Linked DNA regions of Homo sapiens. The protein of the gene in region 4 interacts with the protein of the main gene of each other region in a pairwise test. Each region holds a gene or a part of one and is shown on either strand. Other genes may lie near its edges. The genes, in order: CDK5RAP2, KIZ, PIN4 and CEP72.

Region 1 (7,034 bases), on a different chromosome or scaffold from region 4:
ATTTTTTTTAAAAGCCAGGTGTGATGGCACACGCCTGTGGTCACAGCTACTTGGGAGGCTGAGGCAGGAGGATTGCTTGAGCCTAGGAGGTGGGGTCGAAGCTACAGTGAGCCATGATCGCGCCACTGCACTCCAGCCTGGGTGACAGAGCTAGATCCTGTCTCAAAATAAAAAAAACACAACAACAACAAAACCTCAACAAAAACAAAAATGTAGTGAGACAAACGTTCATGAACAGAGATAGAATTGTTTTGCAAAGTAATGGAGCAACAGTTATCATCAAGAGCCCTAAAAAGTTCACAACCTTTGAACTAGTAATTCCACTTCATAATGGGCGACAGCCAGGTGGATGGGCAGATGAATGGACAGACACACCAGGGTGCAGATGGAGAGAAGAATGGATGAGAGACCAGATGTACAGAGGCCGTCATGGGAACAAGACAGCAGAGCCCATGGAGCAGTTGCAGGAACACAAGGCACAAACCCCACCAAACACAGCCACCACCAATAGTTCCCCACACTGGACCTGACCTCTGAGCTCTCTGAGGCCACACTTCCTGGTCCCTCTTCTCAGGGTCCTAATGAGGACAACTGCGCCATTTGACTCCCCTCCCCCTTCCACCGACACTCCCAGGGAGCAGCTTGTGCCCCCCAGCTCTGTGGTCAGGTTACCTTTGTTCCCAGCTCTTGACTTGTGGAGCTGGGAGCCTCTTGGGTTTGAATGTCCATTTCAGCAAGGAGCCTCTGTCCCTGGCTGATCTGTTTGAGCAGGGCCTCATAGTCCTCAATCAGGCCCAGGACATGGCGGCCATTCTTGCTGGCCCACAGGTGGTGGCCAGTGACCAGGCGGGACACACACGGAGTGCTAGTTGCCGAACTGCCACTGTCGCAGGAGAGGGAGTCCGTGTCATTCCCAGAGAGTGGAGGAGTCTCTGAAACTGTAAAATGAGAAGTAGGATGTAAAATCTGTTTCAGGTAACACTCTGCGTTCAAGACGCTTATGATGTTGAAGCTAGCTAGGAGGGCTAGAAGAGGCCCTCGTGCCCAAATGCCACCCAACACAAGCCCAGAGGGGAAAAGAGGCACGCTCCTGGACCTCTGTATATTACCCCACACTGGGCTTATGAGTCATCTTGTAGGAGAGGCTCAAGTCAACTCAACCAACACTTATCAACCACCCACTCGGCAGAAGACCCCAGATTCACAAGGATGACTCAAGCTGGTGCCTGCATTCCAGTAGCCCACAGTCTGATCAGAACACAGACACTGCAGAAGGTGCAACAGCAGAGTGATGAAGGGCCAGAGCCAGAAAAAACAATTATCTGTGCAGGGAGGGAGAGAACAGGGAAGGCTTCTGAGAAGGAGCAGCATTTGAACTGGATTGAGCAAGTAGCAAGAATTACACGAATGATGAGTCATTCTGACCAAGGACAGCAGCAAAGGCATGTCACAGAGAAATGTGTATTCATGATGAGTCTTGAGGAAACGGGACTTCTACCGGCAAAGAGTGGGACAAAGGGGGTCTAAAAGTCACAGTGAGAGGAAAGTGTGGGCCTGTCTGCAGGATGGTGACCCCTGTGTGGCTACACCAGGTTAAGGGATAAGGCTGGACGGACCCACTGGAGCTGGATCCTGGAGGGCCTTGAAAGCCTCACAAAGGTGGTCACAATTTTAATCTAAGGCAAGAGGGACCCAATGATGTTCTAACCTTGGTAACACCTAGGAGTGGATTAACTGGCTTGAAGGAGAAGATCACCAGCTGGGGATGCTGAGAACTTGAAATCCCAAATCCTTACCAAATACCCTCCTGAGTTGGGACCAGGGACCCCCCTTTTCTGCAAGTTAAAAAGTCTTACTGTCACATCCAATGCTCCCACAGTTACCTGGACTTCAGCTTTGTACCTGATTTTGGTGTCACTGCCTGGGAGGAATCAAACAGATCAAATGAATTATCACTTTCCATGGGATATTTGTCACCATCTACAAAATGCAAAACACGAGAACTGTTAGTTTCACTGTTGTCAGCATTCAAGAGAGAACTGAAAGAGAATACAGTCAAGCCCCTCACATTCACTTATCCATACACACACAGCATTCCTTCAAATCTTCACTGGGCCTCTGTCCTGCCAAGCCCACCTTTGTGGGACACCAGGGAGACAGAGTGACCAGGCCCAGTCCATTCCCTAGAAAAACTCTCAGCAGAAAAGTAAATAAGCAATTTTATTTTAGTGTGATCAAGGACAAGGGAGGGAAACACAGGCTGTTGGGGCTCAGGTGAGGGGCACTACCCCCAACTTGGCTTCCCAAAGGCTAATACCCGTTTTAAAACCTTATGTTTTAAGACTGATTGTGACTGACCTATGGTAAGAAGGAGGGAAAGAAATGCCAGGCAGCACAATGGGCAGGTGAGAGGCAGACAGTGGGACAAAGAGTGGAATCATCGCTCAGGGAGAAATAAGCAGTTCATAGACCCAAGGCCCGGGTGCAGGGAAGGACAAAGTAGAATGCAAGGCCAGAACCAAGAGGACTGAGGGGCCCACTCAAGGGCTTTGGGCAAGGCAATGTCAAGCTGAGGTCTGTATTTTGTACTGAAAGAGTAAGTCTGGAGGCTGCCACACTAACCTAAGCTAGAGATGAGAGTAACCCACAATAGGATCTGGGGGGTGATGTATTTGCAACACTGTAAGGAGGCAAAACCAATAGATGCTGTACAGATGACCTGTGCAACACGTTATAATTTGGAAAGCACTTTCACATATGAAAAGCTATTGGACTCAATAGCTCAGTGGGCAAAACACACTGTAATTCAGATTTCATGGAAGGGGAGACCAAGGGGCAGAGATAGAAAGTGATCTGTCCAGCATAACCCAGCATGTCAGTGGCACAGAGCAAGGAAGCCTAGGGCTTAGGATCCCCCTTCCGAGCTCCTGCACCACTGGGCGGTGGGCTGACTGCACTCCAGCATTTCCCAGGGGTGTGCTACAGTTCCTAAGGCCAAGGAGCCAGGAGGTCAGCTCCATAGAGCTGGCCCCAAGAGGAATCACTCTCAGTGAAAGACATCAGCCTTTAGAACAGAATTTTTAAAACAGATGCACTTAAATACAGACCTGAGAAGTCTTTTGCAAAGGAAGAAATGCTGCTGCCTATAATTCTGATCTTGACTCAAGGAAATTATAAAACTTTTCTGCTGAGGCAGCACTGTGAATTCTGAATGCTCTCCTGGATGCCTCTTGCCAGGCATGATGAGGGCTGCTTTCGGCAAATTTCAAAAGCAGGTAAAGGCTGTTTGATGGCCTCCTCACTTCAGCTACCCAACTCTCCTTCCTGGGTACCCCAAGCACAGAACTGTTCTCCCTGCTTCAAACTCCCCTAGCCTACCCCACAAGTTCCTGAATCCCATCTCCTCAAAGCCTTAAAAAGGGCCAGGTGCAGACCCGTGTTGAAAATAGTAATGCCCAATGCTGAGGTCACACAAAAACCACTACCTTTGTACACTGCTGATGTACAGACTATTTAGAAGGTGGCAATATGGCACCTTTCCAAACTTATGAGGTTCCCCTTGTAGGGTTTTCTCCTAAGAATATTATTTAACAGCAAAAAGCATATTAACATTGATGTCTATTATGGCTCCAAATCAGAGACCACTTTAATAAATCAACGGGGTCATGGATTGGTGACTGAGAATAGCCTGCAAACAATCATTAGGAAGCCCATGTGAAAGCACAGGGAACATGTATGATGTAATATTGGGCAAAAACAAAGAAAGGACACACAATGACACAAAATCCAATTTGAAAAATATAAATTCATGCTCATATTTAATAAATGAAAAAATATGCAAATTTTAAAAAATGATCAATGTGTAGAATCATGAACTTTTTTTCTCTGTTCACTTTTTTCATATTATTACATCATCTTTTTGATTAAATTTTAAGATCCTTGTCAATGAGAAATCAATGAACTAATCACTACGAGCGGACTGACCAGGTGCTCCTTAAGAGATTTATTTTTATTTTTTTAACTAGAGGTATCCAAGTAAAAGTCAGTCCAAACTTTAGTACAATACTTGCTTGTAAAGCAGGCTGGCATTCCTCATCCCACTGGATACACACATTTACCCTATGGGTGTCAGGATGATAATCCCAGGATACCCAACGCTCCAGAGAGTCCAGTGGGGTTTAGGAACAGCCCTGGACTCGAAGCTGGAAATGGTTTCTAGCTCCAGCTCTGCTGCCTACTTGCTGTGCCACTTTGGGCAAGCCCCATCCACTCTCTGGGCCTTTGTTTTTCATCTCTAGAGCAAAGAGGACAGGCTGCCTGATTGCTTGGAGTCTAACCATTTACTGGTTTGCTCCACACCCTGGGTGGGCGGGTGGTAGAGGTGTCTGGTCCTCTTTCTCGTACCCCCCACAGCCTCTCCAGGGCTAGGCAATTAACCTGCACACAAATGCAAAACAGATCCACTTTTTAAACCTATCAGGATGATTTTCAGATCCTGAAAGACACTGAAAGCCAGATTAAGATGTTTAGGTTCCCTTCTAAAGGCAGTAAGAGAAACTAAAAGAAATTTCAGCATCAAAGTGATGCAGGCAGGACTAAATGGATAGGAGGGAGCAAGGCCAGAGGCACTGAGGGTGTCTGGAAGTCCAAATTCCACTTCCCTGAGAATCAAGATGCCTCAGATGGAGATTACGCCACTTTGCCCAAGGTGACCGCTAATTAATTAGCAGTCAGGTCCCCTGGCTCCTAGGGTACAGCATGTCAGCTATCAATGGAAAGACACCTCTGTGGGGCAAAGGCATCATTCAGAAGTTCACATGTCACACACAGATGCTCAGAGCTGCATTCTCAGCAAGTGGGGAGAGGCAGGGGCAGTACCGTGTTTGTCAGGCTGAAGGGGCACCTCAGGGATGGACACGGCTTGGACAGCCAGAGTGAGGGCTCCTTCCTGTGCCTTCTCTGCCCCCCTTGCCAGCTGTTCCTTGAGCCTGCTCTGCAGAGTGCTGCTGGTTTCGATGCTCCTTTCTAGTTGCAAGCGCAGAGCCTGGATCTCCATCAGGAGGCTGTGCAGGTCCCTGAAAGGATCCTGCCCCTTCCAGCCTTCTCCCGACGCCTCTGAGGACATGTGCAAAGAGAAGCCCTGACATCTTCCACAACCAAAGGGTCAGCCATCGAAGGAACTCAATCGCATTTTACACTCACCACCACCATCGCCCTCCCCCTTCCTAAGAACTAGGTACAGTTTAAAATAACAACTTGACTTTAGAAACAAAAATATTGGCAGACTTAATTGCTGCTATTCCACACGCTAAATAAGAGCTGGAAATTAATTTTCGCTTCTGGCCATAAAAGCCTAGCAAATTGCACACCAAACCCCGAAATTATGTCTAGTAGTAATAAAATCTATTTGGGCTAGAATTATAGAATGAAAGGGGATGATTTTAAGAGCCACACTATATTAAAAAGACACAACAGCAAGAATAAAAAAAGCAAGTTGAGGAGAAAATAAAAGCTGTGAGATGACCCCTTTCTAGATAAACTTTCAATAGAGAGAAACCATCTGGAAAATTAGTAAAATAAAAAAAAAAAAAAAACACCTCACCACACCTCAAAATTGATTCTGAAACATTAGACGTTATAGTTGAAGCACTCTGAGCTGGTATCTCTCCTGGGATACAGAGAGCAACGAGGCCAACAACCATCCCCAGAGCAATGCCCAGCACGTGAGAGGTGTCCATAAATGTTTGCTGAATGAGTGGGCAAAAAGTAACATATACTAGCAGGACGATTATAATAAAGGTCATTTCCTGGGTGCCTACTATGTGTCAGGTATCTTGCTAGGATGCTTTTAATAAATGGTCTCATTCAATTTTCAACACAATTCTCCACACAACAGGTGCTGAGAGACATGTTTTACAGAGATAGGTATGGGCTCAAAGGGTGAAGTGGCCTACTGAGGGTCACATAGCTGGGAACAAGTGAGTGGGAACCCGGACCTCGGCTGGCCTGGGTGCTGAGCCTCAGTCCTTCTATGTTTCCTGCTGTTCCTTCAGAAGAAGAGTGGGTCAAAGAGCTAGCTTCAACACCCATCCACTCTACCCACAAGGCCAGAGTGGAGAGGGCTGAGCTCTGCCCTCCTGTGCCTACAGCCAGCTGTCGGGTGGTCTTACAGCCCAAAGCACAGTAGCCTCAAGGTGAGAAGGGCCTCAGTACCTCTCAGTCTCCTGTGCTCTTCATCCAGCTTCTCATACGCCTTCAGCTCCACTCGGAGAGACTGCAATAGCTTGTCATTCTGTGAGAGCAGCTGCTGCCTCAACTTCACCTCCTCCTGCACCCTGAGAAGGCCCCACAGGCATGAGAAGGACAGGTTAATTCTACCTCAGGGTAACTTATTCAAACCCCACAGAGCAGGCCAATTCCACCCTCAGTCACAAGAGTGTGGACCAAGAAGTGACAAGCATGGTTAAGAATTCCATGTGCTCTCTAATCCTAATTCCACTCCTCTGCTCAGAATCTCCCAGTGGCTTCCCATGCCACTCAGAGGAAAACCCAAAGTCCTCACACTGACTCTGCAGCCCGATGTGATTTGGTATCCTGCCAGCCCCCTCTCCAGATACACTGCCCTGCTCTGTCCGGCACAGGCCTAAGCCACTTTGCCTCAGGGCCTGCGCCCATTCTGCCTGAAATGATCTTTCCCAGGTAGCTGCAGCACTCACCTCCTCACTGCATTCAGCTCTCTGAGCAAATGGCATCTTTTCACAAAGGCCTTCCCTGACTCACCCTTGACAAAAAACAGCAACCCACTGCCAAGCCCTCTCCTCCTTACAGGATCTTTCTCCATATGTTGTAGGCGCACCAGACGTACAATGTGTTTGTGTCTACTGCCTGCCACTGTGCACTAAGGCAGAGGCCTGCGTGCTGATTCCACGACTGCAGCCCAGTGCCTGCATGCGTGGTACGGCCAGCAGGCCACCAGGGAAGCACAGCCACTACCTGCTCAGCTCCTGGCCGCTGCAGCGGACCTCCTGGATCAG
Region 2 (7,777 bases), on a different chromosome or scaffold from region 4:
TTTGCCTCAATGAAAAGCCTTTCCATGGCTTGCAATTCTTACATATTAAATCTCTATTCAGAATCTTTGAAATACCCATCCCTGGGATGCTTACCCATAGTTCATGTTTTCAGTCACCCCTCACTTGGACCTTTCAGTTTTACACAGCTAAGTGGTCCTTATCTTGCTGAGTTTTCTACTTTTAAGCCACTTGTTATTCTGTTTTTGTCTCGATACCACAATTCTATACCATCTTCAGCTTACTCTACTAATATCTCAGTGTCAGTTTCTAGACTATTATGATATCTTACTCTGAATCAATATAGGCACTGAAAAAACCGCGGCTGGCTAATGGGCCCTTTTAAAAGGATGTTTTTGTATAACCGTAAGAGCCAATTCCACTTATAAGTTTCTACCATGCTTGTGGGTGCTATACACACTGTAACAAGTCACTCCATTAGACTCTTTTAGATTCAATTATTGACTTTCACCACAATGCAGAAAAAACACTGTACACACATAGGAAAACATTCAGACGATAAAATTACATCTACGTGTAACTACAGCTAACATGACTTGGGCTGGAAATATGCTGGTTATTTGACCAGCTAACATTGCAATGACCACCTCTAAAAGGGCTGAGAAAGAGGGAGTTTTTTTTTGTCTCCCACTTCCCAGAAGTTTCTGGATTGATAAAGCAGCTGTGACTACCCAGGGTTGCTCCCTATGAAATGACTCAGGAATTTTAGGAGACAGTGGTATCTGTGATCAGTGGGATGCTTTGTGTTTCTTTGTTTAAAAAGGTACAACCAAGGCCGGGTGCAGTGGCTCACACCTGTAATCCCAACACTTTGGAAGGCAGAGGCAGGCAGATCACCTGAGGTCAGGGGTTCGAGATCAGCCTGGCCAACATGGTGAAACCCCATCTCCACTAAAAATACAAAAATTAGCTGGGGTTGGTGGTGGGCGCCTGTAATCCCAGCTACTAGGGAGGCTGAGGCAGGACAATCGCTTGAACCTGGGAGGTGGGGGTTGCAGTGAGCTGAGATCATGCCATTGCACTCCAGCCTGGGTGACAGAGTGAGACTATGTTTCAAACAAATAAACAAACAAACAAAAAGGTACATCCAAACACTCAAATTGGATACAGACAATAATATTCTTTACACATTGCTTTGCAAAACTACAGCTTTCAGCTTTTTTTTCTTTTTTTACTTTAAGGCCCATTATTCTAGCAAAGAGAGAAAGAAAAAAATCTGTGGCCTTACTTTGCATATTAGTCAAGCCCCCTCATTCCTGGTAAAGAACCAAGGTTCAGAGAGGTGGAACAACCTGCTCAAGGTCACACAATTGTTCGTGGACTAGAATCCAGGTTTTGATATTTCTACTGCAGCCTTTTCTGTATCTAGAATTATTTGCCTCTATAACTGTGTCCAGTGTGCATTAATTTGAGTTAGTTATAAATTCTTAAAATGAAAAATGAACACACACAGCAACAGATTTGTACTGACTTAAAAATAAAACAAATCTCGAAATGCAGAACCGTGAACAGGCTATAAAATTTGATTCACATTCCTTATATATTTTCAACAGCCTCACCTTGTTTAATAATTAAATAAGTGTTAATCATAAAGTACATAATTATTATACAGTTATTGTGCCATAAGGACTATAAACAGCCAGGTGTTCCTAGCACAGGAAACAAAAATAACTTACAATTAATAGTTCAAAAAGAATGCCATTTATGAGTGCTGTAAGAATGCCAAGAGTCACAAAAGTTAGGGAATGGGTTGAAACAGGGAAGGCTCTACAGGAAGAGATTTCTTTTTAAAGTCAGAAATTAAGAGGTCACTGATATGGGTGAGCGGTGACATGTCAGAAAGAAAATAGGACGTAGAAAAGGAGTACAAGGTAAAAAAAATGCTAACGACAATTAAGGAAGCCTGTTGTAGATGCTCTATAAATATCTGACAAGAATTAAATCTAGCGTAAGATAAATGTAATTCCTTTTCAAAATCGCTCACTTCTGCCTTTATTTTCCATGTAATTATTGTTATCATTTTAGCACTGTCACGCACACAGCTCTCCTGTTCACTAGAATGATTTTGTAACTTTTAACACTCATTAAATGTTTTGTTTATCAAGAGATCCAAAAATGTATTTCCTTTCTTGTCAACTAATGAGAGTTACAACTCCAATTAACTTAGCAGCTAAATAAGAGGTCCAGCAATTTATCTTTTACGTGGTTATTCATAGTACATTGCGGTATAATTTTCTCTCTATATGCACTCTTAGATCTAGCTGTTTTCAGTGGTTCCCATCTTTCATATCTTAATCAAAGGCATCATGAACCCTCTGGAAGCTGGACTTCTCTAGCTGGAAATTTCATCCCTTCGCTGGAAATCTAGCCAGCCCTCGCTACCCCTAAAAGTCTCCTGAGTTTAAACGGGGGCACATGTTTGACACACACACACACAACCGTCTGCGTTCCAGGACTTGTCATCATTGATGCAGTGCAGCTGTCACGGCGGGATGGCAATTTGAAGAGAGTGGGGAGGGGGCGTGTAAAAGGGGACAAGAGAAACTCACAAGGCTTGATGGAGAGTGACAGGCAGAAGAACTCCCACCTTCACTTCTGGGCAAATTCTGTGACGCGGCCGCATCCTCAAACCGTAGACCAGGCTTTAGCTGCTATTGACGGGGCGGGGGCGGTCTCTCACCTCTCTCCGCTCCCACCCCCAATACAGGGGGTGGCTCTAGTAAACACTGTCCTCCAGGCCCCACTGGGAGCCTGGGGGGCGTTGCGCGCGGGCCTGGGCCCCGGGGAACCTCGGACGGGGGAGCGGGAAGGAAAATGGGGCAGGGCACGCGGAAGACCCCCGGCGCGGGCCGACTCCCCACCCCCGCCCCAGTGCCCTTACCTGTCCCGCAGCCCGTGCTGGAGTTGGCCCAGCCTCTCGTAGTAGTCGGGACTCGACAGGGGCACGGCCGATGCGAGGGTCCGGCTCATGCTGCTGCCGCTGCGCCAGCTCAGCACAGCCTCTGGGTGGCCGTTCGGCCGGGGTTGCCGAAGGAGACCGCCCCACCATGCACCGCGGGTAAACACCGCGCCGGGCCGCCTGCAGGAGGCGGGGCAAGACGCCGTGGGGGCGGGGCGCCGCTGAGGGACGGGGCGGAAGCCGGCTTTGTGGGGGGCGGGACGAAGACCTGCATGGGGCGGGGAAGAGGCGTGGCAGAGGCGGGGCGTCGTGAGGCCGGGGCGGACCACGTCGGAGGGGCGGGCGCTCGGTGCCCTCTCCTCTCTCCCTTGACGCGGTGTCTCCTTTCCCCTCACCTTCCAGGATTCGCACAAGCTACGTTAATGTTACAAGGCGCATTCCCTCCCTTTCTTTCGTCTCTCGCTTGCTTCTTTTCCTCGATCTCCTTTCTTGCCAGGATTTGTTGAGTGCCAGGCACTGTACTAAGCTTGTTCTATTATATCAGCACTCAAAAGCGACACAAAACACCAAGTAAAAAAAGACAAACCCTCAAATGCTAAACAGCCGTGCTCAGCCCCGACAGTGGACCAACCCCTTACTCGAAAATCCGTGCTGAATCTAAGGATTGTTCCAGGTGCCAGTATCGTTGGCGAGAGGGAAAAGTTGATAACTAGTTGCTTGGGAAGCAGACGTTTGTGCAGACAGCTCTAAGGGACAATGCTCCTAATGTCCTGTAGGATCCTCTAGCAGGAGCCCGGGAGCCAGACTGCCTGGGTGTACATTCCCTATCCACGTCCCAGCTGCCAAGCCGTGTGCAAGTCACCCCAGGTTTCCTCATATGTAAAGTGGGAGGCTGTTAACACAGGATTAGTTTAGGATTCGATTGTTAATATGTGTTAGTGTTTATAAGTGGGCCCAGCACATAGAAAGCATCAGGTTTTATTATCATCACCAACGTCGGGAAAAAGCTTCCTGAAGGAAGCCAACCATATTTCAAAACCCACTGGGCAGAAAAATTAAGCCTTAGCCTGCTTCTCTGCCTTCCTTTCCTTTTTTTTTTTTTTTTTTTTGAGACAGAGTCTCACTCTGTTGCCCAGGCTGGAGTGCAGTGGCGTGATCTCGGCTCACTGCAAGCTCTGCCTCCCGGGTTCAAAAGATTCTCGTGCCTCAGCCTCCTGAATAACTGGGATTACAGGTGTGCGCTACCACACCCAGATAATTTTTGTTTTTTTTGGTATTTTTTATATTTTAAGGAGAGACGGGGTTTCACCATGTTGGCCAGGCTGGTCTTGAACTCCCAACCTCAGGTGATCCACCCACCTTGGCCTCCCAAAGTGTTAGGATTACTTGCATGAGCCACCATGCCCGGCCTGTAGAGTTTCTTTAGTCTCTTATTGTTCACTTCTTTTGGTTTCTTTCCTATGCCATTAATTTTACTTACACATACAAGGTGCAAGGTGTGACAAACTAAAATTGTAAGAGAGATGGAACACTCAAAGGCCAACAACACAAAACTATGATTTTACTCAGCCTTCCATTCACATTTGCCAGTTCCAGGGCAAGAGTGTGAATGGAGGCCCTCATACCATCCGCCTAAATATTGAATTATAATTCAAGATAACAAACTTAGGTAAAATACGTGTTCTCCTCTCCACTTTGACCAATATGCCTTCTTAAGAACCTGGACAACCAGGGTGGAATTTAGTTTGCCTGCTTCTCCAGCTCCCCCCAACTCCATTTCCCACCCCAGGCTCAGTCTTGCTTTGTGAGGGGGTCTCATACACTAGCAGGGATGTGTGTGCCCTGCCTCTTCTCCTCCTCTTCTCCAGCCAGCAAGTCCCAACTCTGCCTACATCCCCACCTCAGCCTCCTCTTGGCCGGGCAGTGAGCATGCCAGTGATGGTCACCCTTGCAGGAAAGACCCAGCCAAGAGGCCTTTTAAAGCCTTAGAAAGCAGCTTGGGCCCCTTTGAGCAGGGAAGGTAAGGGTGTTGGGTACTTAGAACGTGTTCTAGAAGAGCATGTGTGTGTATGTGTGTGAGCACCCCAGGTGGGCCTGTCATCTGGCCCTGGGACCTCCTTGCCTTGCGTGGAGCAGCATGGGCAGAGAAGGGCTAGAACAGAACCTCTAATACACAGAAGCCAGGGCAGAGGCCTTCTTGCCCTGGTCCAAGGGTAGCACTGATGTGACTTTTATTTAGTTTTTATTCAGATTATATCCAATTGATTCAGTGGTAATGTGCAAAGGTTTATTTTAATGAGTTTAGTGTAACTAACATTTTACTACAACCCTGGCAAAGAAAAGAAAAGCATTAAATTTTTAGGATATTTTATTTAGGACCATGCCCCCAGGGTTAGTTTTTTTTTTTAAGAAAAAGAATCCCCAAACAATTAATATAACTAATTTTAGCAAGTAGCACAGAGTAAGCAGATGAGGCAGTCATTTAGCACCCAAAATTTTTATTAGGCCATTTTAGGAGAATCTAAAATTAAATGTAATTAAACAGTAAATAGATAATTCAAAATAATTATAATTTACATCCTATGGTTGATTCATTAATGACGTATGACAAATCTAGATGTAGGATCTCCTTTATTAACAATAACACATAGCAAACAAAAGGAATATTTCTAGAGTATTTATGCTAAAATTATGCATTTTAAATGGTGACAGGCTTTCAATAAATTCTGAGTTCTTCACTTTGAATATTTAATTTGCCAGAGCCCTCTATTTTAATATTTTTCTTCAAACTCTTTATTTAGCTGAGCTGATTTCTGTAAGCAGCCCTGCTTTTAGCTCACTGGACCAAGGGTCATCAAGTCTGCCTAGATCAAGGCTTCCTCTAAGTCCTAGAATGTCTTAGCTAGAACTTAGAGGGAGTCTAGCCCCACCCCCTTGTTTTACAGGGGAAAAAGGGTTCAGGGCAGATAAGGGGCTTGGCCAAAGTCACCTAGCTGGAAATCTATGTAATATTAACGAGTCTAGTTCAAAATATGGATCCCTAGTGGTCCCATTAAGCAAACAGCAAGGGAAGCCAGTGTCTCGGCCCAGAAGTCACATGAATCTTTGGGTGAACCAAATGAAATTGTTGTTTTTGTAGCTCAAAAACAAAATTGATTCTGGAAAATATATTGAAATTAGAATTGTACATATATTCTAATATTGGGAAATTCTAATTTCAACATATTTCCATATATATGTATATATACATTACATTTACCAGTTTATTATAAGAATATCACAAAAGATACAGATGAAAAGATTCATAAGGTGAGGTCTGGGGGAAGGGGTGTAGAGGTTCCATGCCCTCCACGGGCACACCACCCTCCAGGAACCTCCTCCACATGTTCAGCCAGCTCAGAAGCTTCCTGAACCCTGTCCCCTTGGGTCTTTTATGGGGACTTTATTGGATAGGCATGATCGACAGTCGTGTAGAAGCGTGATTGGACAAAGGGGACATGATCTAACACTAATTGAGTGGGAAACCCAACAAGTCCTGTTCTGATTCATCTCGGCCTCTCAATGCAGCAGAAATTTTTTTTTTTTTTGAGACGGAATTTCACTCTTGTTGCCCAGGCTGGAGTGCAATAGCATGATCTCAGCTCACCGCAACCACTGCCTCCCTGGTTCAAGCGATTCTACTGCCTCAGCCTCCTGAGTAGCTGGGATTACAGGCATATGCCACCACGCCTGGCTAATTTTGTATTTTTAGTAGAGACAGGGTTTCTCCATGTTGGTCAGGCTGGTCTCGAACTCCCAACCTCAGGTGATCCACCTGCCTTGGCCTCCCAAAGTGCTGGAATTACAGGCGTGAGCCACTGTGTCTGGCCTGCAGTAGCATTTTATATTTTAAAATGTACACACTATGCTGCTTTTAATTAAATCATGTATATTTAGTCAATAACTGCTTGGATATTATATTAATTTGCTAGGGCTGCTGTAAGAAAGCTCCACAAACTAGGTGTCTTAAACAACATGATTTATTGTGTTTCAGGTCTGGAGGCTAGAAATTGAAGATCAAGATATCTGCATGGCTCGTTCTTTCTGAGGGCTGTGGGGAAGAATCTGCCGCATGCCTCTCTCCTGGCTGCTGGTGGTTTGCAGGCTATCTTTGGTGTTCCTTGGCTTCTAGACACATCATCTTGACCTCTGCTTTCATGTTCACATGGTGTTCTACCTGTGTATGTGTCTCCAAATTCTGCCTTTTTATGAAGGCACCAATCATATTGGATTAGACGCCCACCCTTCCCCAGTATGATCTCATCTTAACTAATTACATCTGCATTGACCCTGTTTCCAAAGAAGACTGCATTTTGAGGTACTGAGAGTTAGAACGTCAACATATGTATTGTGCAGGGGACACATTTCAATCCATGATAGATATGAAAGTAGGACAAGATTTCATTTTGCAGTCATTATGCAGACATATCCAATCTGGTAGCCATTAGCCATGGCTATTGGGCAATTGAATATGGCTAGTGCAACTGAGAAATTGAATTTTTAATTTAATTTTTATTTATTTATTTATTTTGAGATGGAGTCTCACTCTGTTGCCAAGGCTGGAGTGCAGTTGTGCAATCTCAGCTCACTGCAACCTCTGCCTCCTGGGTTCAAGCAATTCTCCTGCCTCAGCACCCTCTAACAACTGGGATTACAGGCACACACTACCACACCTGGCTAATTTTTGTATTTTTAGTAGAGACAGGGTTTTGCCATGTTGACCAGGCTGGTCTCGAACTCCTGACCTTAGGTGATCCACCCTCCTCAGCCTCCCAAAGTCCTGGGATTACAGGTGTGAGCCACTGGGCCCAGCCAAATTT
Region 3 (7,034 bases), on a different chromosome or scaffold from region 4:
AAGGAAAAAAGGTGAGGAGGTAACTTTGTTGCTAGGGGGCTGAAAGCCAATGAGTTCCTGACAATGGGTCTGGTTTCCACTTTCTTGTTAAAATAATAAAAACATTTAAAAGTTGATGAGTACTTATCTCATTAAATCCTCACACTAACGCTGTGAGACTAGATGAGTGTTTCTTAACCCTGGCAGCATATTAGAATCACCTCCAGAAATTCTAGAAAAGTTTTTCGTTTTTGTTTTTTGAGATGGAGTCTCACTCTGTCGCCCAGGCTGGAGTGCAGTGGCGCAATCTCAGCTCACTGCAACCTCCGCCTCTCGGGTCCAAGTGATTCTCCTGCCTCAGCCTCCCGAGTAGCTGAGATTCCAGGCGCATGCCACCATGCCCAACTAATTTTTGTATTTTCAGTAGAGACAAGGTGTCACCATGTTGGCCAGGCTGGTCTCGAATTCCTGACCTCAAGTGATACACCCACCTCGGGCTCCCAAAGTGCTAGGATTACAAGCATGAGCCACAGAGCCCAGCCCTTCTAAAAAAGTTATCAAAGTCCAGGCCCCCCTCCAAGAGATTCTGATGCAGTTGGTCTGGGATGAGACCCTAGGCACTCGTATTTTTTTAGGCGAATCTGATGTACGTCTAGGGTTGAGAACCATGGAATGAAGTTCTCTGTTGACTGATGGGAGTGGGGTGGTGGATGGCTACAGGTGGGCGGTAAAGGATTGCTGAGCAGCACTGAGGGCCTAGGTAAAGTCAGAGACCAAGTATTAGTAGTCCCAATCCCCAAGGCTGTGTGACTTTCCAGTAGGGCCCAGCAGTTCTGGGGAGCTTTTTTTTTTTTTTTTGAGATGGAGTCTCGCTCTGTTGCCCAGGCTGGAGTGCAGTGGTGTGATCACGGCTCACTGCTACCTCTGTCTCCCAGGTTCAAGTGATTCTCCTGCCTCAGCCTCCCGAGTAGCTGGGATTATAGGCACCCGCCACCACACCCGACTAATTTTTGTATTTTTAGCAGAGACGGGGTTTTACCATGTTGGCCAGGCTGATCTTGGACTCTTGACCTCAGGTGATCCGCAAGCCTTGGCCTCCCAAAGTGCCAGGAGTACAGGCATGAGCCACCGGCGCCCGGCTGAATTTTTCTTTCTTAAGTAACTGTTTCAAATTTGAGCCAAGCTACTGAAATAAGTTCATCTATAAGCAAATATAATACTCATATTGGAATTATTAGTAAATACTTTATTTACATACTTATTAAAAATCAAGTATTAATATTTAAGTTGCCCCCAGCTAGACGTTTTCAAGGAAATCTTTTCTTTTCTTTTCTTTTCCTTCCTTTCTTTTTTATTGATGCATAGTAGATGTACAGTTTCAAGGTAATGCAATAATCTAATACATTCATATAATTGGTAAAGATCAAATCAGTATACTTGGAATATCCATCACCTTAAATATTTGTCTTTTCTTTATACTAGAACCACTCGAATTCTTCTCTTCTAACTATAGATCTAATTTTAAGTGCATAGAAAGTAGACCATTGGATTGATCCTGAGTAGCAGGGAGGTGGATGCAGGGAGGTGGCCAAAAGAAAAACTGGACCTCCTCAATCCAATGATCAAGCCCTTAGGCCTAATTTTGAGTGTGCAGGGGATAGGAAAACAAACATGAAGCCTAGGAGAAAGTGGGGAGATTAGGGTGGGCTTGAGGGCTTGGGGGTCTGTGAGGAGAAGAACAGAGGAACAGGATTGGCGGAGGCAGGAAGGGAAGGGGAAGGAGGGAAGCTGTGGTCAGTGGATGGGTCTCAGAATCTGCAGAGCTTATAGCGACAAAAGGGCAGGGTGTGGGCACAGGGGTGGGGTCTGAAGCAGAATGACAGAATGTGAAAGGAGCTGAACCCTAAAAGGCCAGAGGGTCCCAGGGTCCCTCACCGACTGGTGCCTTCAAAAAACACTTGAAACAACCCAGCTGTCCTTCAACAGGTGAATGGTTCGACATACTACAGCACTTCCACATCATGGGATACAGGTTGAATATCATTTATCCAAAATGCTTGGGACCAGAGTGTTTCGGATTTGGGAATATTTGCATTAAACTTACCAGTTGAGCATCCCTAATCTGAAAATTCAAAATCTGAAATGCTATAATGAGCATTTACTTTGAGTGTCATGTCAGCGCTCAAAAAGTTTCAGATCTTACAGCATTTTGTATTTTGTATTTTTGGATTAGGGATACTCAACTGGTACTATTTAGCAATACAGAGGAATAAACTATTGATAAACAAAACCACCTGAATGAAATCTCCAGCGAATTATACTGGGTGAATAAAACCAATCCCAAAAGGTTACATACTGTATTATTCCATTCATATAACATTCTTGACATTATAAAGTTACACAAATGGAGAACAGATAAGTTGCTGCCATGGGTTAAGAGGGCAGAGGTGGGGCAGGAGGGAAGCGGGTATAGTTATAAAAGGCCAAGAGGAGGGATCCTTGTAGTGGTAGGATTGTCTGTATCTTGACTACATCAATGTCAATATCCTGTTTGTGCTATTGTACTATAGTTTTGTTAGGTGTTACCATTGGGAGAAACAAAGGAATACGTATTATTTCTTTTCCTTTTTCTTTTTTTCTTTTTTAGAGACAAGGTCTCATTCTGTTGCCCAGGTTGGAGTGCAGTGGCGTGATCCTGACTCACTGCCGCCTCAAACTCCTGGGCTCAAACAATCCTCCTACCTCAGCCTCCCAAGTAGCTGGGACTACAGGCACACACGACCATGCCCAGCTAGATGTATTATTTCTTAAAACTGCATGTGAATCTATAATTATCTCAAAATAAAAGGCTTTATAAAAACAAATTTAACCCTAATCTACTTTCCTAGTGAATAACGTGCCACTCCTTTCCATATATCTCATGAGTGGCCACATTGAACTTATTTTTTTTCCAGAGAGGGTAAGGTGCCTCTTTAAAGCCACATGCACCAGGTGTGGTGGCTCATGCCCCTATAATCTTAACACTGTTGGAGGCTGAGGCGGGAGGATCGCTTGAGGCCAGGAGTTCAAGACCAGCCTGGGCAACATAGCGAGACTCCATCTCTACAAAGATAAAAACAACAAAACAAAGTTTTTAAAAAATTAGCTAAAGCCGCCAGGCACGGTGGCTCATGCCTGTAATCCCAGCACTTTGGGAGGCCGAGGCAGATGGATCACCTGAGGTCAGGAGTTCAAGACCAGCCTGGCCAACATGGTGAAACCTCATCTCTACTAAAAATACAAAAAACTAGCTGGGCGCGGTGGCGGGCACCTGTGATCCCAGATACTTGGGAGGCTGAGGCAGGACAATCGCTTGAACCTGGGAGGCGGAGGTCGCAGTGAGCCGAGATCGTGCCATTGCACTCCAGCCTGGACAACAAGAGTGAAACTCCGTCTCAAAAAAAAAAATAAAAAAAAGTAGCTAAAGCCATATGCAGTGCAACAGTCTCTTAGGTTAGATGCTTGTGAAAACATATTAGGTGAAAACTGCATATAGCCAAAATTACCCTAGAATATCCCTTTATGAAGATGTCATATGGGAGACCAGCATGTCAGCTCTCATTTAAGCCCAGACATAGCCAGGAACGCTGTACTCCGTTTGTAACATGAAGTAACTGGGTTGTATTTAGGGGCTATGTTTTATGAAAACTTATCTTTGGATACCAGAACCCCACTTCACATGATTGGATGCTCACACAAGAATTCAGGGCAACTATAGAAAAGCAGGTGCATGTCTCTCATCTCTCTCTCTCTCTGTGGGGCATAGGTTCATTGAATAGAAGAGTGGGCAGAACAGTCCACACCATTTACATGATCTCTCTTTTTTAGGCTACACATGTATGGCTGAATTTATATGATGCAGTTCCACTGCTATGCTTATCATACAGCAATGAAATACATATCTTTACCTAACTGCTCCCAAGTAGCCTGTGATAACAAGGACCATCTCTTACTTTTTATTTATTTTTTTGAGACAGGGTCTCGCTCTGTTGCATAGGATGAGTGTAGTGGCACAATCATGGCTCACTGTAGCCTCAAATTCTCGGGCTCAAGCGATCCTCCCACCTCAGCCTCCTGAGTAGCTAGGGCCACAGTTGTGCACCACCACGTCTGGCTGATTTTTTATTTTTACTTTTTTAGTGACAGGGTCTTGCTATATTGCCCAGGCTGGTCTCAAACTCCTGGGCTCAAGTGATCCTCGTGCCTTGGCCTCCCAAAGTGCTGGGATTACAGGAATGAACCATTGTGCCTGGCCCATCTCTTACTTTTTTATTAAATAAATACATGATAAAAAATCCCCAGAGCCTAATACATTGCTTGGCACAGGGCAGATGTCACTAAGTCCTTACTGAATGAATGAATCAAAGTACAGCCTCCCATATCCTGACTAAAACATGGAAATTGCCTTGTTACATAGCACTTACTAGTTTGCAGATTAAATTTTCTCCCAGCAGATACTCCTCTGGGGCTAGGTTAAGTATTTCAAGTAATTATTTGCTGATTTTCTCCTGCCCCCATTTTCATGGTCAAGACCCTGGTTTGTGGCTCACCAGTGGGGAAGCTTTCTAAAGAGACCTGCACCCTTGCCTGTTTATTCAGCAGAGGACTTTTAACACTTATCTAATCTCTTGGTTTTATAAAATATTATTTTGTCCTAAGAAATAACTCAATTACTGGGAAGATCTAACTTAATGCATTTTAAGGAACAATACTAAAAAACTATAAAGAAATTCTGGGTATCTGAGAAAGTACATGACAAAATATTTAAAGGGAATTACTTTTCATAAGCAAGACTGGTCTATATTTTCCATTTTTTTAAAATTTATTTTTATTTATTTATTTTTTTGAGATGGAATCTTACTCTGTTGCCCAGGCTGGAGTGCAGTGGTGCAATCTCAGCTCATTGCAACCTCAGCCTCCTGGTTCAAGCGATTCTTGATTCTCGTGCCTCAGCCTCCCAAGTAGCTAGGATTACAAGTGTACACCACCACACCAGGCAAATTTTTGTATTTTTAGTAGAGACAGGGTTTCACCATTTTGGCCAGGCTGATCTGCCTGCCTTGGCCTCCCAAAGTGCTGGGATTACAGGTGCGCCCAGCTACAATTTTGTGTTATTTTGATTTTATACCAGTGTTAGGCTAGCCTGTTAGAATGAGTTAAGCATTCTGTCTTTTATGTGTACTAACACATAAACAGAATTTATATTTAACATGGAAAAAAAGGAACCAGTAACTCACCTTTACTGCATTGCCACCACCTTTGGGACCTTGAGCCTTCTTGTCAGCACTGTCACTCCCAGAGGCTGCTCCCCCTTTAGAGAAGAGATGACAGGTACTCATTTAAACTGCACCTCCATGTTTACAGAAAGGTCCAACACACAACCGGAGTGGATATTTCCATCATAACGCCACACTTCAAAAGGGAACTCGGCCAGACACTTTACAACAAGGGTATCCAACCTTTCAGCTTCCCTGGGCCACAATGGAAGAATTATCTTGGGCCACACAAAATACGCTAACACTAATGATAGTTGACAAGCTAAAAAAAAAAAAAATCACAAATAAAAATCTCATAATGTTTTAAGAAAGTTTGCAAATTTGTGTTGGGCTGCATTCAAAGCCATCCTGGGCCGTATGCAGCCCGTGGGCCGTGGGTTGGACAAGCTTGCTTTACAACATCAAGCTAAATTAATCTGACCCATCTTTCTTCAAACAGGAAATCTGTGCCCTATATAAACCCTTCACAGAAAATGGATACACAAATGAGTGTGCTAATAGGTGAATGAAAGCTCCGGAAGCCTGGCCCAGATTCTTTGCATCCAATTTAACACCCTGCCTTCTGAGGGCAGACTCCTAAGTTCTTGTAAGAGTTCTATCATGTACCACAACTATGTGTTCAAGCATCACAATTCCAGTAAGTAAAATCTCTAAGAATACATTTTTTAAAAAGATCAAATTTCCCACTACCCATTTTTGGCTAAAGAATACATTCATGTCCAAATTTCTAGAGTCTACTACATTGCCTATTGATGTCTTCCTAGAACCATTAGCAGCATCTTACATTTTACTAGTATGTCATTTTACTACTATGGTAACTTCTGTGTCAATGGCAGCCTACATACTGCTAGAGGCTGATGTTCCTAAGAATTACAGTTGAATTAAGGGCTCAGTTCAATAAACATTTCCTATACAACTACTGAGTTCCAGGCACTGGGAGTACAAAGATGAACAAGCCATGTACCTTCCTTCAGAAAACTCATATTCTAGTGAGGAAGACGGATCATTTCAGGAGAATGCAGGAGATGCAGAGATGGTTATGGACAGGGGGCTGTGGAAGCACAGAGGGACACTGGAGCCAGCCAGGGAAGGTTTCCTGGATGAGTAGGAGCTGGTTAGCCAAAGAAAGGATGAGGAGACACTCCAGAATGGGGGAAACGACATGGTATGTGTAAGAAATTGTATGGATGAAGCCAAATCTGAGGTGGGAGTGCACTCAGATGAGCCTGCCTGAGGGAGGTAGCTGAGGGTCAGGGCATTGAGGCCTTTTGGCCCCATTAAGGAGCTTGGGACTTATCCTAGACGTAATAGGGAGCCATTGAAAAGTTGTTTTTTTTTTTTTTTTTTTGAGACGGAGTCTCGCTCTGTCTGTCGCCCAGGCTGGAGTGCAGTGGCGCGATTTCGGCTCACTGCAAGCTCCGCCTCCCGGGTTCATGCCATTCTCCTGCCTCAGCCTCCCGAGTAGCTGGGACTACAGGCGCCTGCCACCACGCCCCGCTAATTTTTTTTGTATTTTTAGTAGAGACAGGGTTTCACCCTGTTAGCCAGGATGGTCTCGATCTCCTGACCTCGTGATCTGCGAGCCTCGGCCTCCCAAAGTGCTGGGATTACAGGCGTGAGCCACCGCGCCTGGCCGCCATTGAAAAGTTTTAAGCAAGAGTCTCCATCTTGCTTGTCTTAGTATCTCCAAGCCTAGCACAATGCCTGGCACACAAAAGGTGTTTTAATAAATGTTTGATT
Region 4 (3,748 bases):
CACTAGGCGCACACACAGCACACACACACAGCTAGCACACACACACAGCAAGCGCACACTAGCGCACACACAGCACACACACACAGCAAGGGCACACACACACACAGCAAGGGCACACACACACACAGAGCTAGCACAGAGCATTTTCTTCTTAGGCCTGCTCATTCTTCCCAAATCAGTTGAACGTCATTTAAAAAATGACCTTGTCTTACCAATCACAGCAAGTATGACATAAGATATGAAGTTTCCAAACTAAAAATCTAGTTTTGTGTCCTATTATGACATAATTTTCAGAACTACACTGCAAACAAGAGAGCGAGCCAGGGCTTGGGTAGATGTTTCCGCTGTGATATGTTAATATCATAAGACAATATTTTTAAGGTTTTTTCCCCCACATCTATAAGTGTCACTTGTGTTAAGTCTTTGAACTTAATTATTCCCACTCACCTATCATGGTGCACAGCTTGTTCTATAAAAAACTCAATGACAAACTCAGTTATAATTTGTATACAGCCACTGAAAAAGTTAACTTTTCAGAACAATGTATTTGTTTATTAAATAAAGATTGCTTGTTACACAGAAAATTATTTTCTTTAATTATCATACATAGCTCTCTTTCACATCAGGCAGTAGAACACTGCATTTACTTCATCTCAGGATACTGGATACAAGATTAATAGTCAGTTTGTCTCAAAATATGTCAATGTGTTCTGTCTGAAAACATGCAGAGGGCTTGGAGTAATCATATCATTTTACGAGGTGCTTTAGAAAACCAAGCTACAGGTCCTGAATACATTCCAAAAATCCTAAATAATTACCAACAGAAGAGAGAACTCTTGCCAGCCAGTACACTCAATAAAGAAGTACAAAGGTGCAGACAATGTAACTTTACCAGGAAGCTTAAGGGGTGGCCCAGCTTCTCGGCAGGAGTCAGCAGGCCTGGCAGCCTCCATGGCTGGCGCTGCTGTGTGGAAACAGGGCCATGGTCTTCTTGAGCTCCTGGTAGCTCCAGTGCATCTGCTCCACCTCGGCTCTGTGCTGCGCCCGCACCTGGCTCAGCTCCTGCAGCAGGTGTTCATTGGTGCTGACCAGGGAGCTGCAGAACAACAGGGAAGCGGCTGCTTGGCACTTCCGTCCTCTCCAGCGGTGTGGCCCTCACCTGCTGGGCCTGCCCACCTCCCTGCATGGGCACGAAGGTGCCCTGGCCCTGCACACAGACCTATCTCTGTGGCCCCATCACCTTCTGTGTCCCACTGGCTACCGCCCACCTGCCTCCTCCTTCCCAACCACTGTCCTGACCCCTGGGAGCAGCCTTGGAGGTGCGGCTCAGCACCTATGGAATGAATGAATGAGCTGAACAGGCTAATGAGTGACTGAATGGCGCCTTGGCTATTCCAGCTACGCATGGTTTTATGAGAAGATGATAAACTTCATGGCTAGCAAAACAATGTTCTAATTCTAGAAAATATACGGGGACTGAAATAGTTCTAATTCCCAGTCAAATATAATAATTTTGACATCATAATAGTGCAATAGAAGAGTCCTAGTCTTTAATGCTGTTGACCATTTTTATTTTAGAAGTAAAGTGCTATTACATTTTACCCACTTTGTCACCTCCAAATTGCCCTAATCACCCAGTCAGCGATGACCTGAGGACACTCAGGGCATTACAAGTATTAGACAAGGCAGGGCCCACTGACCTCGGTCACATTAGCCACAGAGATGGGCACCCCACTGACAGGGCCACTGTGCAGGCCCAGGCCCTGTTCACTTGGACAGCAAAGGAGCCGCAGGCCAGGACTGGATGAAGCCAGCATGAATCCTGGGGGCAGAAGCCCAATGCCACCATGTTTGGGAGCTGTGCACCCTGCCTTGTCCACATCCAGGCCACAGTGCTCAAGGAGAATGACCCCCAACTGTACCTTGACCTGCCACAGACAGGCCCACCAGGTTCCAGGGAGTCACATGGCCCTGCCCACGACTGGGCACTGCACCCGCGGCCGCCACAGTCCCCTTCCTTCTGCTCCGCTGCATCTCCTCTTGGCCCAGTCTCATCTTTCAGGACCCTTCCCCTCTGTAACTTACACCTGTGATGGGCCCCATGGGGGTCTGTGGCCTTTATCCTGTAAGGGGCAGAGCCTGGCTACGCCTATGACCAGACTGTGGTCGAACCCAGGTAAGTGTGGCAGCCTCAGCCTGAGGAGTGGGGGAGGGAGCGGGAATGGGAGGTCGGGGGAAAGGAAGAGGGAATGAAAGGGGGAGGGGAGGGGGAGGAACTGACCACAGACCAGCCTTCCCTGCTGAGGCCACAGCAACAGGGGTTCACACAGCAGCACCCACAAAACTGCCCAGAGCGACCTGTCCTTGCCTCCTCCAGCAGCTCGCCTCTTCCTTTCTGCACCCAGCCTCCAACCACGTCCCGGCACACAATTCTTAAAAGACAAACTAAGATTCTGCCTTGAAGATCCCCTCACACCCAGCCCCCTTCTCACCATCCCCCTATAGCCAGGGAGTAAAGGTGAAATCTCCGTGTTTCCAACTGAACACGCACTGCAGTGAAGGGGGAAGCACAGCTGCCGGACTACCGCCCAGGGGAACCAGGTTGCCCCGCCGTGCCCGACCATCTCTCATGCACCTCTCTCCCCTGGTCACACTGCACACAGGTCATATCTCACAGTCCACAACTCTCAGTCCACACCTCACATTCACAACTCACAGTCCATGCCTCAGTCACACCTCACAGTCACACCTCACAGTCCACGCCTCACAGTCACACCTCACAGTCACACCTCACAGTCACACCTCACAGTCCACGCCTCACAGTCACACCTCACAGTCCACGCCTCAGTCACACCTCACAGTCCACGCCTCACAGTCACACCTCACAGTCCACGCCTCACAGTAACACCTCACAGTCACACCTCACAGTCCACGCCTCAGTCACACCTCACAGTCCACGCCTCACAGTCACACCTCACAGTCCACGCCTCACAGTCCACGCCTCACAGTCACACCTCACAGTCCACACCTCACAGTCACACCTCACAGTCCACGCCTCACAGTCACACCTCACAGTCCACGCCTCACAGTCACACCTCACAGTCCACGCCTCACAGTCCACGCCTCACAGTCCACGCCTCACAGTCACACCTCACAGTCACACCTCACAGTCCACACCTCACAGTCCACGCCTCACAGTCCACGCCTCACAGTCCACGCCTCACAGTCCACGCCTCACAGTCCACGCCTCACAGTCACACCTCACAGTCACACCTCACAGTCCACGCCTCACAGTCACACCTCACAGTCACACCTCACAGTCCACGCCTCACAGTCACCCCTCACAGTCCACGCCTCACAGTCCACGCCTCACAGTCCACGCCTCACAGTCACACCTCACAGTCACACCTCACAGTCCACGCCTCACAGTCACACCTCACAGTCCACGCCTCACAGTCACACCTCAGTCCACGCCTCACAGTCACACCTCACACCCACAGTCACACCTCACAGTCACACCTCACAGTCCACGCCTCACAGTCACACCTCACAGTCCACGCCTCACAGTCACACCTCACAGTCACACCTCACAGTCCACACCTCACAGTCACACCTCACAGTCCACGCCTCACAGTCACACCTCAGTCCACGCCTCACAGTCACACCTCACACCCACAGTCACACCTCACAGTCACACCTCACAGTCCACGCCTCACAGTCACACCTCACAGTCCACGCCTCACAGTCA

Evidence for each region.
Region 1: the proteins of CEP72 (region 4) and CDK5RAP2 interact in binary tests that used the Homo sapiens proteins (3 or more experiments, as listed by UniProt).
Region 2: the proteins of CEP72 (region 4) and KIZ interact in binary tests that used the Homo sapiens proteins (3 or more experiments, as listed by UniProt).
Region 3: the proteins of CEP72 (region 4) and PIN4 interact in binary tests that used the Homo sapiens proteins (3 or more experiments, as listed by UniProt).

What each region holds. Positions count from the first base shown.
Region 1 is NC_000009.12:120,402,134-120,409,167, forward strand, and holds part of CDK5RAP2 (CDK5 regulatory subunit-associated protein 2), read right to left. Parts: coding exon 6,994-7,034; intron 6,336-6,993; coding exon 6,214-6,335; intron 5,116-6,213; coding exon 4,879-5,115; intron 1,981-4,878; coding exon 1,903-1,980; intron 939-1,902; coding exon 673-938; intron 1-672. UniProt on the Homo sapiens protein: Potential regulator of CDK5 activity via its interaction with CDK5R1. Negative regulator of centriole disengagement (licensing) which maintains centriole engagement and cohesion. Involved in regulation of mitotic spindle orientation.
Region 2 is NC_000020.11:21,121,328-21,129,104, reverse strand, and holds the start of KIZ (centrosomal protein kizuna), read right to left. Parts: upstream 2,990-7,777; coding exon 2,901-2,989; intron 1-2,900. UniProt on the Homo sapiens protein: Centrosomal protein required for establishing a robust mitotic centrosome architecture that can endure the forces that converge on the centrosomes during spindle formation. Required for stabilizing the expanded pericentriolar material around the centriole.
Region 3 is NC_000023.11:72,184,756-72,191,789, reverse strand, and holds part of PIN4 (peptidyl-prolyl cis-trans isomerase NIMA-interacting 4), read right to left. Parts: intron 5,330-7,034; coding exon 5,256-5,329; intron 1-5,255.
Region 4 is NC_000005.10:650,336-654,083, reverse strand, and holds the end of CEP72 (centrosomal protein of 72 kDa), read right to left. Parts: intron 1,097-3,748; coding exon 931-1,096; 3' UTR 531-930; downstream 1-530. UniProt on the Homo sapiens protein: Involved in the recruitment of key centrosomal proteins to the centrosome.